3 linked regions of the Homo sapiens genome follow. The protein of the gene in region 3 interacts with the protein of the main gene of each other region in a pairwise test. Each region holds a gene or a part of one and is shown on either strand. Other genes may lie near its edges.

Region 1 (2,476 bases), on a different chromosome or scaffold from region 3:
GCTCATTTCTTTTTAGCACAGAATAACATCCCTTCATTGCACACACTGTGTAAAGAATGACTCCTGCTTATACACAGGACAGCTTACTCAGGACAGCAACATGATCTGGTCACTGTCTAAACAACTTGTGCAAGATAAGGTGACTTAAATGCTATCTGAGAGCAGTGGTGCTGTCACACTATAGGTGACACAGCTCAGGTCCCATAATCTGCCTTGAAACATTTCTTCCTACACTCCTCGTATTTGCTGTGATTTATAATCCGTGCTGCCCTGGGTGGCCAGTGGTGCTTAATGCTGTGAACATGGCATCTTAGCCCGCACACACAGGTTCAGATTCTGGCTTTCAGATGTGCTTTCTCTGTGAGTTAGGGATAGATATGTAAACCTCTTCAGCCCTTTGTTTTGGTATGAAAAGGTGCGATAATTTACCTCAAGAGGATTTACATCAATTAGTGCTGTTAGAGACCTTAGTAACTTGCATAGCATTTAGTATGCTTTGAAAAGTTACCTTTATGAATAAGATATGTCAAGTGTCTGTCATGTTTCTTATGAGATTGACCTTTGCCTTCATTATATCTTACATATTTTCTTTTTTGTAATTTTTTTTTTCATATCAACATTTCTCTGACTCTACATAATAAAATGTTAAAGCACACAGCTTTCATTATATGTATTTTTTGGCCATAGAACTGGAAAACTAGATGACATTTCCTAGTCAGGGAGTTTCTCTATATACTGCTGTCATATAACTGCAGGCATGAAATTATTTCAGACTCCCCTCCTAATTCTTCATCTTTATAGTAATGTGCATTTACCTGAAGCTGATATTTCAAAATTTAGTGATTCTCAACATATTATTTTTCCTATTGTGTGTCCCTTCTGTTTTTTCTGTAGTTCATAAGCAGTAATTCTTTAGAATTTCACTGACAATTTTGTGTAATTGTGGTTGTTCATTAACTTGCCTGTTAGATTTTCACAGGTTACTAAAGTGTTTTATTTATTTTTGTAATGATTTACAGATGATGGTTTTTCAGTATATATTATGCAATAGAACCACCATGCACAAATTGTTAATGCTGCAAAATGCACATTCTACATGGGTGTAAGTAGTTTTATAACAAGTACTCACATTTGCAATTTGTAAATATTCAAAATTTTATTAAATTCTTCCGAATTTTTTCTTTCAGTGTTTTGTTTGCAATTATGAATTGTCATTTTTAAATATTTTTTATTAGATAAGCTTGAGCTGTGCCTTACCTTTTGTGTGTAATAATTATGTACTAAATAATGCATTACTATTTGTTTATCTTCAAATATGAGACTACCATATAGCTATGCCAATTTACGTGTTCCTTGGAGTGGTGGTGGAAAAATACCTCTTCTTTCAGAGTTTATGTGGATTTACATAGTATGAGTGTTTTAGCTATAGGGTGTTTTAAACTGTGCTTAAAATAATTTGTTACATGTTTTGTTACTGTGTTACTTTATTGAGGACAGCTAGTCCCTTTGTGTTGTTAAACGTTTAAAGACAGTTGAGAAGCTTCATAACTCTGTTCATTGTAAATCTTAGCTTTCTTGTAATATGTATTTTAATAAAATATTTACCTTGCAACTCTATTTGATGGAAAGCCTGTGGTTTTTTTAATATCTTTCAGATATTTCTGTTGGATTTACAAGCAAGGGATTATCACCAAAGGAAAATAATAAAGAGGAATTATACCATCTGGTGATATTAGAAAGAAAGGAAAGCCATGGCATCAACAATTTTGACCTCAAGGAAGTCTGGGAAAATATGCCTAAGTTTGACAGCCTGTGGGACTATGATGTAAAAAATTACAAAGGAATGCCTTTGACCTGTAACAAAAATCTCACTCACAGAAAAGATCAACAACATAATAAATCCTCAATACATTTCTCTTTAAAGCAGAGTGTTTCTATAAGAGATAGTGCACACCAGTATTTCATCCATGACAAGCCATTTATAAGGAATTTGTTAAAACTGAAAAATAACATAAGGTATGCCGGAAACAAATACGTGAAGTGTTTTGAAAATAAAATTGGATTAAGCTTACAGGCACAGCTGGCTGAACTACAGAGATTTCAAACTGGGGAGAAAATGTATGAATGTAATCCAGTTGAGAAGTCTATCAATAGTTCCTCAGTTTCACCACTTCCTCCTTGTGTCAAAAACATTTGTAATAAATATAGGAAGATTTTGAAATACCCTTTATTACATACACAGTATGGGAGAACACACATTAGAGAAAAATCATACAAGTGTAATGACTGTGGAAAGGCTTTTAGCAAAAGTTCGAACCTCACTAATCATCAGAGAATTCACTCTGGACAGAGACCTTACAAATGTAACGAGTGTGGCAAAGCCTTTAACCAGTGTTCGAACCTCACTAGGCATCAGAGAGTCCATACAGGAGAGAAACCATATCAATGTAATATATGTGGCAAGGTCTGTAGTCAA
Region 2 (3,600 bases), on a different chromosome or scaffold from region 3:
GCGCAGTGGCTCACGCCTGTAATCCCAACACTTTGGGAGGCCCAGGCAAGCAGATCATGAGGTCAGGAGATGGAGACCATCCTGGCCAACATGGTGAAACCGTCTCTAATAAAACACAAAAAATTAGCCAGACATGGTGGCATGCATCTGTAATCCCAGCTACTCAAAAGGCTGAGGCAGAGGAATCACTTGAACCTGGAAGGCAGAGGTTGCAGTGAGCCAAGACTGCGCCACTGCACTCCAACCTGGGCGAAAGAGCGAGACTCAAGTCTCAAAAAAAAAAAAAAAAAAAAAAAAAAAAAAAAAAGAAGAGTGGAGAGTGCACGCTAGAGTCCAATTAGGTGCATTCATCCAGTAAGCCTCCTAGGTAACTGCTCTAGGTGCAGGGAATAATGCAGGCAGCAGGACAGGAATGGGCGCTGTCAGCTCCCCCTAGAGCTCAGTGTACATACACCCTTCCTTTCCTGGGAGGGCCGTTCCAGGCCCCCAGGAGACAGGACACGCTGAGCTGGGTGGGGCTGGGGCCAACGTGGGCAGGCCTGTGAGACTCTGCACTTGGGAGCTGGGGGCTGTGGTCTGCGGCATACCCATGTCTGGAAGCAGCCTCTGTCCCTGCAGGGGCTCTAGACCCCAGCCACGGATGGCTAAGGAGGAGCTAGGCCAGGGCACGCATAGACAACCCCCGACATTCACGGGTGTTCAGCCCTACCCTGGGTGTGGAGGTCGTGGCCCAGCTGCCTGACCCAGAGCTCGGCTCTTCCACTTGCGCTTCCCACCCCCAGCTTCACAAGGTCACCTCCAGGAACTCAGTCTTTTTGTGTGTTGTTTTCTGGAGAAGGAAGGTGATCTCCCCACTCCCGGGGCTGTCTGCCTTCCCTGTAGCTGGCAGGTGCCAGAGGCCCCCGCCTGTGACATCCGGCTTTCCTCCCACCACACTCGCCTGAGAGCCAGCATCTGTCTTCTTGGGCCTGCTCAAGCTCTCCTCCGTGTCAGCCCCTCCTCCATGCCCTTCTCCCTCAGACCCCACCCCCCATCCCTTCACCGCCCACTGGGGCTCATCGCTCAGGCTGTAGGAGGGAAATGGAAGGATGTCCTCCCGGGCTCTGGCTGGCGCTGGGTGTCCGAGTCAGCGGAGCGCCCCCAGCAGTCTCCCCGAGGCAGAGTCATGGGGGTGCTGGCGCCTGGACGCTGTCTCATCCCGGGGAGCCGCTTTCCCACCGGCTCCCTGGGCTCCAGCCGCCCCACGCGAGCCCCCGGCTGGTTCTGGGGCCAGGACCGCCCCTCTCCAAGGCAGACTTCCCTTCATTCCACGACAAAGACGCGCAGCCCCGTTTCCCTGGGGCTCTAGCCCGTGAGATCGCCGGGTGTATCCCGACTCCCGCCGGCACGTGCGCTCCCCCAGGGCAGGGCCTGCCTGTCCCCTTCCGCGGGTCGCCAGCAGCCAGCACAGGCCGCAAACGGCGGTCCGCAGAGCGGACCAACGGAGCCGACCCTCGCAGGCTTGGAGCCGGACGCGGCGGGGCAGAGCCCCCGAGGCTGCAGCTCGCCGGAACCCGCGGGAGGGCAGCCGGGCTGGGCGGAGCGCACAGCGCCACGGACCGACCGCGCAGGCTCTGCCGGCCACTTCCGGTGTCGCGCGGCGGCTCCCGGCAGGAGGCAGAGGGCACACCGCCAGCCCCAGGCCAGGCTGCGAGGGCCGCGGACCCGAGCCGGGAAGGACCTTGGGCGGACGAGCCGCGCGTCCCGCAGCCATGGAGCAGGACGACCCGGTCGAGGCGCTGACGGAGCTGCGCGAGCGGCGGCTGGGCGCGCTGGAGCTGCTGCAGGCGGCGGCCGGCTCGGGCTTGGCAGCCTACGCGGTGTGGGCGCTGCTGCTCCAGCCCGGCTTCCGGCGCGTGCCGCTGCGGCTGCAGGTGCGGGGCGGGGCCAGGCCGGGCAGGGGAGCTCGGCTGCCGCTCAGGGTCTCAAGGTCTGGGCGTGGCCGGGGTGAGCTCCGCCCCGCCGTGTGGTAGTTCGGGCCGGGCTGCGGGCGGGGCGGGAGCGGCCAGTGGACTCTCGCCGCCACCCGGTCCAGGTGCCCTACGTCGGCGCGAGCGCGCGGCAGGTGGAGCACGTGTTGTCGCTGCTGCGAGGACGCCCCGGAAAAACGGTGGATCTGGGCTCTGGCGACGGCAGGATCGTAAGTGCCTGCGTCTGGGTCTTCGCCGCCCCACACCGCCCACCTGCTGGCGGGCGCCCCTGCCCACATCCTGGTTCCCACACTCTCGGTGCCCACAGGTGCTGGCGGCCCACAGGTGCGGCCTCCGCCCGGCCGTGGGCTACGAGCTGAACCCCTGGCTGGTGGCGCTGGCGCGGCTGCACGCCTGGAGGGCCGGCTGTGCCGGCAGCGTCTGCTATCGCCGCAAGGATCTCTGGAAGGTAACCTGGGGATCCCTGGCCACCCGCTGACAGCCCAAGGTGCGGCTGACACCTGCGAGGGCTGGGGGCCGGGACTCGGAAGCTGCGATGACCCGGTGCCCACCAGGCCTCTCCCCGGCCGGGGCGACTTCTCTTCCGGCAGGTGAGCCTGAGGGACTGCCGCAACGTGTCTGTGTTCCTGGCCCCTAGCGTGGTAGGTGCGGGGTTGCCAGCCCCGCTGGGAAGCCCCAGCCACACCCCAGGGTGTTTGCTGCTCTGAGGCCTGGGCCTGCCTGGTGGGTGCTAGGCTTGGGGCTAGGGGGGTGAGCGCGGCTGTTTTCTACCGGCCCCGCCCCCGCCCCCTCTACTCTGCTGTTCTCTCCCTCAGCTCCCGCTGCTGGAGGACAAGCTGCGGACAGAGCTGCCTGCTGGGGCCCGCGTGGTGTCTGGGCGCTTCCCACTCCCCACCTGGCAGCCTGTGACCGCGGTTGGCGAGGGCCTGGACCGAGTATGGGCTTATGATGTTCCTGAGGGTGGGCAGGCTGGGGAGGCCGCCTCCTCGCGGATACCCATCCAGGCTGCCCCCGGACCTAGTTCTGCCCCCATCCCGGGGGGCCTTATTTCTCAGGCCAGCTGAGTATTAGACACGATAAAGACTCTGTGGGTTCTATCCTGACTCATGTTTTATGGGGGGCTGGGTGGGAGGGTTCTGTGCTGGCTGAGGAGCTCTGCTCTGCTCTGCTCCTTGGGAGACGGCCTAGTGGCTGCCGGTCCTTGGATGCTGGGGCTTGGCTGGAGGCACAGCCCCCACTTTCCAGGGGTCCCCTGCACCTGCCAGCTTCCTCAGCCTCAGGATTTCGTGCTTGTACCTGCTCAGAGGAACCATGCTTAAGTGACTTGCCCAGCTGTGGACAGGTCTGCTTTTAGCGCCTGAGGCAGCCATCATCCTTCATTCCAACCAGACCAGGGCCCTGGGGTCACACCCAGCTCCCTCTGCCCACCTGCCCAGGTGCTGGTCCACGTACTCCTGTAGCTCAGAAAGTTGCTCTTCAGCCATCGTGGCCCGGACCAGCAGCTGTGCCCGCTCCCGTTCCAGCTCTGCCTGGCATGGGGATGTAAGCCATGAGCTGGGGCATGGCGTGAGGATGGGCCTGGGCCAGCCCTTGCCTCCTACCTGGGTGCTGCGGGAGAAGTCCCGGAGCT
Region 3 (3,655 bases):
GTTGATTGTTCTAGTTGTTACTTCTTTCATGCATCCATTCCTTTGTCACTGGTCTGGCCAGCTCTTCCCCTTCCCATCCATTAATCTATTTATCCATCTATTGATCCATCCTTTCTTCCATTCATCTATCTACTTACCCACTTATCCACCCACCCACCTATCCATCCATCCATTCATACACCCATGCATCCATCAACCCATTCTTCCATTCATCTATCCACCCACCCATCCATTTATCCATCCCTCCATCCATCCATTCATGCCTCCATTCATCCATCCACCTACCCATCCATCACCTGTCCATCCATCCATCCACCTATCCATCCATCAACCTATCCATCCATCCATCCATCCATCCACCCACCCACCTATCCACGCATTCATCCATCCATCCATCCCTCCATCCATCCATTCATGCTTCCATTCATCCATCCGCCTACCCATCCATCATCTATCCATCCATCCATCCATACACCCACCTATCCATATATTCATCCATCCATCCATCCATCTATCCATCCATCCACCCACACACCTATCCATCCATCCATTCATCTATCCACCTACCCACCTATTCATCCACCCATTCATCTATCTACCCATCCAACCACCTATGTATTCACCCATATCCATCCATCCTAACACTATTTTTCCTCCCTATACCCTCCCCACTTAGACACATAGCTATGTGGGCAGGGATGCTATGAGGGGCACCTTCCCTGCAGAGGTAGAGATAATAACCTGCCAGGAGCTTCTGAGAATGGGGGCTGAGGAAGGCGGAGTTTGGGGAGAAAGGAGAAAGGAGGGGCAAGGAGGGCTGGCTGAGGATCTGTGTATGTAGCAGGAGGGGCAGCCTGAGGACATGAGGGGTTGCCCAGGGAGCAGTATTTTGGGCAGGGGGCAGCATGAGAAGTGGGTGTCAGAGGGTGAAGAAAGGACACAGAGCAGGGGCATTTTAACGTGCATGATGCTATTTGGTGCTACTTTTCCCCCTTCACTAACAAGGGAACTGAAACAGAGAGAGGTGCTGTGACTTGCTTAGAGTCACACAGCTGCTGAGTGGCAGAAGCCACAGCAAACTCAGGCCAGTCTGTGTATTTGGTGCCCAAGGACCAGTGTCCCCATGGGAGGTATGTTAGCTGCAAATAGCAGGAATCCAGCTAGTGCACAAAGGGCATTAGCCTGAGGACATGGGCACCCGAGGCTGGACCCCAGGGCCTGAGCCGCTGTTCCCAGACCCCAAGGGAGTGACTGAGTTGCTGAAGAGCTGGCCTTTTGCAGGCAGCAGGTTCAGACACTCTTGGGGGCGGGGGGAGGCAGCAGGGAGCAGTCCTCACTCAGCCAATTTAAAACCAAGGGGAGGAGACTCATGGACCCTGATCACCCACCTGTGGCAGCTCCCGTGGCCCTGGGGAGTGGAGTAGGGCCCTGGGAGGAGGGAGTGCCAGCTGGCAGATAAAGGGATGCAGCTGTGCAGATGTAGTAACAGGTGTCAGCTGCAGGAAGAGTGGCTGTTTATGAAGTCCTACTGTGTGCCCAGTCACTGTGCCATGGGGCCATGTGTGTTATCTGCTATGGAATTCCATCTCTGCAACAACCCCAGCTAGGGAGGCACAGAGAGAGACGGTGACTCCCCTGGGGCCACACGGCCAGGAGAGCAGTGACTCAAATCCAGGTCTGTTTTATTTGAGAACCATGATGTAAAACGACAGCTCCCTCTGGACTGGTTATTCTAAGAAACTTTTGTGAAAAAAAAAATTCCCTGTTTGGCACAAAGATAATAGCATCGTAATGAGGTGTTTATTGGATCTGTGTCTGCAGAGGACGTCTTTGATGAATTATTTAAGCTGGCTCCGGAGAAAGTGAACGCAGTGAAAGAGGTAGGAGAGATCAAAGCTCTCAGCGGCTCTCAGGCTGCCCACCCCACCCACTGCCCACCTGCGCTGTAGGAGGGAATCACGGGTCCTCCCATCACACCTGCTGTGTGCTAGGCCCTTGTTCTTCCCTGGTTAGGCCATCGTGAACTTTGTCAACCAGAAGCTGGACCGCCTGGGCCTGTCTGTGCAGAATCTGGACACCCAGGTAGGGACTGAGCTGCGGCGTCCCCAGGCAGGGCAGGGCCACTGGCCGTAGGAAGGAAAGAGGGTTCTGCAGGCCCTGGGAACCTGCTGTGTGGTGGGGGTTGCATCACCTCTTGGAGCCTTAGGGTCCCCCTCCCCGGTGGGACTGTTGCTGGCAGGCAGCAGTGGTCACCAGGGACATGGTGGGATCCCGGGGGTGGAGGTGTGGGAACACTTCACAAAGCTGGAGTCACCTCGGCTGTCACTGCTTCTCATTGTTATAATTTTATTTTATAATTAATCTCAGACTAGCTGATGCCAAGACTTGAAGCATATGAGTCTTCCCTGCGTGGTTGTGTTCGCCCAAACAGAATTTATTAGATTTGTCCCATGTGCCAGGCGTAGGTGACAGCGCAGCCCAGCCGTCTGCAGGCTCCATGTCTCTCACAAGCACCCTGAGGAGCCCAGCCCCTCCCCCGGCTGACTTAAGTCGAATTTTCCCAGGAGCAGGAGCAGAATCTCAGGGGGTCAGCACCCACCATGGGCTGTGGCTTTCCACAGTGAAGCTGTGTCCCTGTAGGCTTCCCACACTGCAGGGGAGCAGGGGGTGCACAGTAGCAGACCGGCTGCCAGCCCGGGGCCTGCAGAGTGGGCATGGAGTCTGCTGGATGCCAGTGGCCTGAATGGGACATGACGTAGGCATCTGGCCACCTGGGTTCTGCTGGGTGCTGGGGTCTGGGGTGGGGAGGGAGTCTGGTCCCAGATGGACCAGTTGGCTCATGAAGATCGTAGCCAGAGCTGCTGACCTCTCAGAGAGACTCTGGATGGGCATTGGCTGGGGAGGGAGGGGTTAATGTACTCCCATGCCTAGTAGCTAAAACCAATAAAGCCCTCACTATGTGCCAGTCCCAGGGCAAAATGCTTTCCATGTTAACTCATTGAATCCTCTCCATAATCCTCTGAAGTGGGAACTGTACTACCCCACTTACAGAGGAGGATGTTAAGGCACAGAGAGGTTAATTAACTTGTCTAAAGTCACACAGTGATAAGTAGTGGACCTGGGATTTGAACCCAGGCAGCTGGGGCCAGAGTTAGTGCTTATAACCACCTCACATGGTGGCCACGTGAGAAGTTTGTGTGTGATATGGTGTGGCAGCATGGCAGGGTGGAAGTATCACGCTCTGTAGCCAGACAGACACACATTTCCCTCCTGCCTCCACCACTTATGGGCCCTGGGGTCTGCTGAGAACCCTCCACATTTGCTGTGTGACCTTGGGTGAGTTACTGGACTTCTCTGAACCTCAGGCTCTTCTTCTTATAAAGTGGGTACAAGATAGCAACTTGGTAGAATTGTGAGTGATACATGAGCTGGTGAGCCCCACGTGTTTGGTATATTACCTGGCACGCTGCCGGCATGAAATAAGTGAGAGATTTGTAGTTTTATTATATTTTATGTGGGTATAAACAGGATGATTTCTGAGATTTACATTCTACCTGTTCTATCTGTATCTCTCCCTTGGTAAAATAATGGGTTTCAGAGACTCATGGCATGTGCAAAGGTGGTATTTAGAGACTGTTCAATAAAATGGGGTAAG

The links.
Region 1: the proteins of PARVG (region 3) and ZNF677 interact in a two-hybrid assay, tested with the Homo sapiens proteins (one large-scale study listed by BioGRID and IntAct).
Region 2: the proteins of PARVG (region 3) and ANTKMT interact in binary tests that used the Homo sapiens proteins (3 or more experiments, as listed by UniProt).

Annotation. Positions count from the first base shown.
Region 1 is NC_000019.10:53,237,737-53,240,212, reverse strand, and holds part of ZNF677 (zinc finger protein 677), read left to right. Parts: exon of another isoform or gene 1-1,019; coding exon of another isoform or gene 1,020-1,051; exon of another isoform or gene 1,052-1,617; intron 1,618-1,655; coding exon 1,656-2,476. UniProt on the Homo sapiens protein: May be involved in transcriptional regulation.
Region 2 is NC_000016.10:719,524-723,123, forward strand, and holds ANTKMT (adenine nucleotide translocase lysine N-methyltransferase), read left to right. Parts: upstream 1-1,622; 5' UTR 1,623-1,751; coding exon 1,752-1,913; intron 1,914-2,074; coding exon 2,075-2,179; intron 2,180-2,277; coding exon 2,278-2,418; intron 2,419-2,560; coding exon 2,561-2,611; intron 2,612-2,785; coding exon 2,786-3,034; 3' UTR 3,035-3,067; downstream 3,068-3,600. Other genes in the region: CCDC78 (coiled-coil domain-containing protein 78), read right to left, coding at 3,155-3,266, 3,399-3,600.
Region 3 is NC_000022.11:44,194,334-44,197,988, forward strand, and holds part of PARVG (gamma-parvin), read left to right. Parts: intron 1-1,821; coding exon 1,822-1,880; intron 1,881-2,013; coding exon 2,014-2,082; intron 2,083-3,655. UniProt on the Homo sapiens protein: Plays a role with ILK in promoting the cell adhesion and spreading of leukocytes.